Regions from separate parts of the Homo sapiens genome. Here region 2 is reported to be linked to region 1. Evidence: microRNA targets listed by miRTarBase, many of them from high-throughput screens and not tested one by one. Region 1 holds a microRNA gene; the other region holds the end of a gene's coding sequence.

Region 1 (3,166 bases):
CCGAGCAGAGAACCCTATGGGGTGGGGTGTGGGACCTCACACACTGCAGGTTCTACCACCACCTCCCCGCGGGTGGCTTGGCTTAGAAGGCCTAGAGGTGGACCTAGAATGCGTACTTTTAGGGGGCTCCCCGGATGACTTCAACAGGCAGCCAGGTGGGGGCCACTGATGGGCAGACACCAAGAAACACCAGGAACACTTCTGCTAAGCGCTGGCCTTGTCCCATTAAGAACCTGTGGCTCCCCTGGGAGGTGTGATCCCGTGCTCCCTGGGAGGTGTGATCCCGTGCTCCCTGGGAGGTGTATCCTGTGCTCCCTGGGAGGTATGATCCTGTGCTCCCTGGGAGGTGTATCCTGTGCTTCCTGGGAGGTGTGATATCGTGGTTCCTGGGAGGTGTGATCCTGTGCTTCCTGGAAGGTGTGATCCTGTGCTTCCTGGGAGGTGTGATATCGTGCTTCCTGGGACGTGTGATGCTGTGCTTCCTGGGAGGTGTGATCCCACACTCGCTGGGAGGTGTGATCCCGTGCTCCCTGGGAGGTCTGATCCCGTGCTTTCCTGGGAGGTGTGATCCCGTGCTCCCTGGGAGGTCTGATCCCATGCCTCCTGGGAGGTGTGATATCATGGTTCCTGGGAGGTATGATATCGTGGTTCCTGGGAGGTGTGATCCCGTGCTCCCTGGGAGGTCTGATCCCGTGCTTCCTGGGAGGTATGATATCATGGTTCCTGGGAGGTATGATATCGTGGTTCCTGGGAGGTGTGATCCCGTGCTTCCTGGGAGGTGTGATCCTGTGCTTCCTGGGAGGTGTGATCCCATGCTTCCTGGGAGGTGTGATCCTGTGCTTCCTGGGAGGTGTGATACCATGCTTCCTGGGAGGTGTGATCCCACGCTCACTGGGAGGTGTGATCTCACACTCGCTGGGAGGTGTGCTATCGTCTTCCCTGGGAGGTGTGATCCTGTTCTTCCTGAGCGGTGTGATCCTGTGCTCCCTGGGGGGTCTGATCCTGTGCTTCCTGGGAGGTGTGATATCATGGTTCCTGGGAGGTGTGATCCCGTGCTTCCTGGGAGGTGTGATATTGTGGTTCCTGGGAGGTGTGATCCCGTGCTCCCTGGGAGGTGTGATCCCGTGCTCCCTGGGAGGTGTGATCCCGTGCTCCCTGGGAGGTGTGATCCCGTGCTCCCTGGGAGGTGTGATCCCGTGCTCCCTGTGAGGTCTGATCCTGTGCTTCCTGGGAGGTGTGATATCGTGGTTCCTGGGAGGTGTGATATCGTGGTTCCTGGGAGGTGTGATCCCGTGCTTCCTGGGAGGTGTGATCCTGTGCTTCCTGGAAGGTGTGATATCGTGGTTCCTGGGAGGTGTGATATCGTGGTTCCTGGGAGGTGTGATATCGTGGTTCCTGGGAGGTGTGATATCGTGGTTCCTGGGAGGTGTGATCTGGTGCTCCCTGGGAGGTGTGATCCCATGCTTCCTGGGAGGTGTGATCCCGTGCTTCCTGGGAGGTGTGATCCTGTGCTTCCTGGGAGGTGTGATACCATGCTTCCTGGGAGGTGTGATCCCACGCTCACTGGGAGGTGTGATCTCACACTCGCTGGGAGGTGTGCTATCGTCTTCCCCGGGAGGTGTGATCCTGTTCTTCCTGAGAGGTGTGATCCTGTGCTCCCTGGGGGGTCTGATCCTGTGCTCCCTGGGAGGTGTGATATCATGGTTCCTGGGAGGTGTGATCCTGTGCTTCCTGGGAGGTGTGATATCGTGGTTCCTGGGAGGTGTGATCCCGTGCTTCCTGGGAGGTGTGATACTGTGCTTCCTGGGAGGTGTGATCCCGTGCTCCCCAGGAGGTCTGATCCCGTGCTTCCTGGGAGGTGTGATATCGTGGTTCCTGGGAGGTGTGATATCGTGGTTCCTGGGAGGTGTGATATCGTGGTTCCTGGGAGGTGTGATATTGTGGTTCCTGGGAGGTGTGATCCCGTGCTTCCTGGGAGGTGTGATCCTGTGCTTCCTGGGAGGTGTGATCCTGTGCTTCCTGGGAGGTGTGATCCTGTGCTTCCTGGGAGGTGTGATATCGTGGTTCCTGGGAGGTGTGATCTGGTGCTCCCTGGGAGGTGTGATCCGGTGCTCCCTGGGAGGTGTGATCCTGTGCTTCCTGGGAGGTGTGATCCTGTGCTTCCTGGGAGGTGTGATATCGTGGTTCCTGGGAGGTGTGATCCGGTGCTCCCTGGGAGGTGTGATCCAGTGCTCCCTGGGAGGTGTGATCCCGTGCTCCCTGGGAGGTGTGATCCCATGCTCCCTGGGAGGTGTGATCCCGTGCTCCCTGGGAGGTGTGATCCCGTGCTCCCTGGGAGGTGTGATCCCGTGCTTCCTGGGAGGTGTGATCCCGTGCTTCCTGGGAGGTGTGATCCCGTGCTTCCTGGGAGGTGTGATCCCGTGCTTCCTGGGAGGTGTGATCCTGTGCTTCCTGGGAGGTGTGATCACATGCCTGCTGGTGATAGAGAGGCACAGCTCCCCATTGGGGAACAACCAGGACCCAGCCCTGGGAGGTGTGGATTCAGGAGGGCCCCAGAGGCCTGCATGAGCTAGTGAGAGCTAGGAGGTGGTGTCCGCACTGGGAGCGGGACCCACACAGAGGGCACGTGGGGTAAGCATCAATGAAGTTCCGGGTGTCAGCCAATTGCACCCTCCCAATGGCCCTGGAGCAGTTGCAAAAGCTTCCTGCTCTCCCATCGTCCCCTTCTCCAACCCACTCCCGAATGCAGACGCCCCTGGCCCTCCTGGGTGGCCAGAGCCTGAGGACACTCACTAGGACAGCCCTGGGCAGCTCAAAGGAGCACTTTGGCCTGGCACAGGCCAGCTCCAGGGATGCCCCCACCTTCCTCCACATGCATGGATCGGGTTTCGTCACCAAGACATCTGCAGGACAGGAGCGGGGCCTCTGGCCACATGGCCAGAGTGCCTCCTCCATTCATGGGTCCCATGTGCAAATGGGCAGACAGGAGCTCTGAGCAGCAGATTCCCCGAGGCCACATGGGGCACTGGTGGCATCTGAGCCTGGGTCGCTGAGGCAGCTGTCCTCAGCCTGGTCTCACCAGGCCACAGCTGTCAGTGGGTAAACGTGTGTGCGCGTGTGTGTGTGCTCCTGCGGCACTGTGGGGGTCATGCCTGTGGCTGAGCAT
Region 2 (3,000 bases), not on the chromosome of region 1:
ATTTGAGATGGCTGGTAATCGTTCTCAGAACATAAAACACAAAGTAAGTCGGCACATTGATAGAACCTCCTCTATAAATTTCCTATATCTTAGTCACACACCAGAGTTAAGCCATCTGTCTTTGCTCATTTTTCCCTCTATGGACAACATAATATGTTGGGAAGGGCTTTCCAGGAGGGCATAACCGGGAGATGAATCTTACATCACTGGGCAAGTTTCCACCTCTAGGCCTCAGCTTCCCTATCTGTAAAACGGAGATAATCCTACCTGCCTTCATAATACCTTACAATTGTCACAAATAACCTTGTACACAAAAGGCCTAGGATATATGTAGATGCTTTGCAATATTATCTTTCTTCCAGTTTCTTGTATTTTTTAAGGTATTCAAATACATCTATTTTAACATTTTTCTATATATACATTTGCTACGGAAAATTGAAATCGCACACTGAAATATCCTTTTATTGCAACTCAAATTTTCAAAAACCAGAAAATCAAATTATTATGCTCTAGCCAAATTATGTAATGTTTTCTTTTTCTTTTCTCTGTCACCCAGGCTGGACTGTAGTGGAACAATCACAGTTCACTGCAGCATCGGCCTCCTGGGCTCAAGTGATCTTACTGCCTCAGCTTCCCGAGTAGCTGGAACTATGGGTGAGCAACACCACAGCCAGCTAATTTTTTAAGTTTTTGTAGAGACGGGGTCTTGCTGTGTTGCACAGGCTGGTCTCAAACTCTGGCTTCAAGTGATCCTTCCACCTCAGCCTCCCAAAGTGCTGAGATTACAGGTGTGAGCCACTGCCCCAATGGTATCTTTATATTATTTTTCCTTACAAGTTACTTCAAATTCTTGATGTTGAATTTCATCTCACTGACTTCAGGCTTTTAAAACACATGGGAATACTTGAGACCTAAGAATGGTTGTGAGTCAAATAAAAAAGTAGAACTAAAGTATACTGAAGTTATTCAAATACATTCAAACTATAAAGATCCCTTATAGATTACTGGCATCAAGGTAGGAAGGAAAAGATACAAGAAGTAAAATGCAACACTCATTACAGGTTGTCAACATTATTGGTATACAGTTTATCCTAACACAGAGCAGCCTTCTTAACCTGCTCCATAAAATTACCAGCAAGAAAGAAAAGTACAAGAATAAGGTTCACAGCTGAATTGGCTTGGTGTCCTAATTCCCTATTCCAGTATTCTCAGAAGGATCCCATCTATGATATATGCAGAAATCACAGCCACATTTGAATGGTTCAATCTTGATTCATACTGAACTCCCTTAAGCCCAGCAGTTTCTCATTCTTAAAAGGTAGGTTATTAGAGCCCCAAAGCAATTTTCATAACAAATCTACCTTTGTATATTTAAGAATATGCATTAAGGCTAGGAGTGGTGGCTCACGCCAGTAATCCTAGCACTTTGGGAGGCCGAGGTGGGCAGATCACAAGGTCAGATTGAGACCATCCTGGCCAACACGGTGAAACCCCATCTCTACTAAAAATACAAAAATTTGCCCGGGCGGTGGCTCACGCCTATAATCCCAGCACTTTTGGGAGGCCAAGGCGGGCGGATCACGAGGTCAGGAGATCAAAACCATCCTGGATAACATGGTGAAACCCCATCTCTACTAAAAATACAAAAAAATTAGCTGGGTGTGGTGGTGGGCACCTGTAGTCCCAGCTACTCCTGGGACTACTCGGGAGGCTGAAGCAGGAGAATGGCATGAACCCAGGAGACAGAGCTTGCAGTGAGCCGAGATCGCGCCACTGCACTCAAGCCTGGGCGACAGAGCGAGACTCCTCTCAAAAAAAAAAAAAAAATTAGCTGGGTGTGGTGGTGCATGCTTGTAGCTCCCCGGCTACTCAGGAGGCTGAGGCAGGAGAACCTCTTGAACCCAGGAGGTGGAGATTGCAGTGAGCTGAGATTGCACCACCGCACTCCAGCCTGGCAACAGAACAAGACTCCGTCTCAAAAAAAAAAAAAAAAAGAGAATATGCATTAGGCAAGACAATATAAACCTCCAATTACAAAAATCAATTAAGAAAGGTTAACTGTTCTTGCACTTGTGGGATGAACATGAAGATCTGAATGGGCCATGAATAGTCTGGCTGGGGGTTTTGAAGCAGGAAGTCTTGGAAGCCAGTAAATTGTAAAGTTGTCCAAGAGACCCAGAGCCCAACTCAAAAGTCCAATCCTCCCATAGCCACTGTCTATCCCAAGACAAAGTCGAAAAAAGCTAATTAGTACCCACACCCAGCTCTAAGTCACACAAGAACAAATCTCTCCCTGGGCCCTGTGCAGGCCAGGCCAGAAGAGCAAGGGCAACTCAGGATACTCCATTTATTGAACTCCAAATCTAACAAAATTAAGATCGCTGCAGTGTTTCAAAAGGACCTTGACCTTGTTCCCACTGCTATGCTCACTAAAGTCAGCTCATTTATGTTTCTGTAGCCTCTGTATCTGTAGCTTCTGCATCTGTTTTCTGAGAAGCTAACAGGACTTCACGTGCCCGTTTCCTTCGCAGTCTCTCAGCATTTGTGATCATCATAGGATGCAGAGGGAAAAAGCCAGCAAGACCTAAAAGTAACAGATTTTTCACTTATTATAACACAGTATAAGCCAATGCTTCCCTAGGAACTCTGTCTCACAGAACTGAGGTCTGAGATCTGACCCAGTGCATGGATGCAAACCATGCTCCTCACTTGCCAAACTCTGTACTACTTCTCCCCGGCAAGGAGACAGTGGATGTCTACTTCCCTAACAATATTCCCCTTACTTTAAAAAACGTAAACTGACAGATGGCCATTCAAAACATACTATTCCTATTTTTAGCATAAAATACCAGTCACCCAAAGTCTTACAAAGGAGTCCACAAAAGGGGCCTCCAGATTCAAAATGCCAATTAGATCACAACTTCAGCTCCCACTTCAGTCCTGAACAGCCTAGAGGGAATGAAATAACTCTTTTTTTTTTTTCTTTGAGATGGAATCGCC

Evidence for each region. Region 1 holds the annotated microRNA hsa-miR-3689d (GGGAGGUGUGAUCUCACACUCG, at 894-915, shown strand). A microRNA usually pairs through its seed, bases 2 to 8, with sites in the 3' UTR of a target mRNA and lowers its output. Matches are read on the target gene's strand: a 7mer-m8 pairs with bases 2 to 8, a 7mer-A1 pairs with bases 2 to 7 and ends in A, and an 8mer does both.
Region 2: miRTarBase lists MRPS16 as a target of hsa-miR-3689d. Seed matches in the 3' UTR shown: 7mer-m8 at 1,905-1,911.

Annotation. Positions count from the first base shown.
Region 1 is chr9:134,848,081-134,851,246 of GRCh38, reverse strand. It overlaps MIR3689D2 (microRNA 3689d-2), which reads left to right and starts at 891; the gene lies at 891-970. It overlaps MIR3689C (microRNA 3689c), which reads left to right and starts at 1,878; the gene lies at 1,878-1,949. MIR3689A (microRNA 3689a) reads left to right here and starts at 1,683; the gene lies at 1,683-1,760. It overlaps MIR3689D1 (microRNA 3689d-1), which reads left to right and starts at 1,565; the gene lies at 1,565-1,638. It also overlaps MIR3689B, MIR3689E, MIR3689F and LOC101448202.
Region 2 is chr10:73,248,408-73,251,407 of GRCh38, forward strand. It overlaps MRPS16 (mitochondrial ribosomal protein S16), which reads right to left. Exons shown (of 3, transcript NM_016065.4): 3 at 442-2,584. The coding sequence ends at 2,445. It overlaps DNAJC9-AS1 (DNAJC9 and MRPS16 antisense RNA 1), which reads left to right. Exons shown (of 4, transcript NR_038373.1): 2 at 1-43. Among named protein-coding and RNA genes, the nearest start is that of DNAJC9-AS1, 2.5 kb to the left of the region's middle.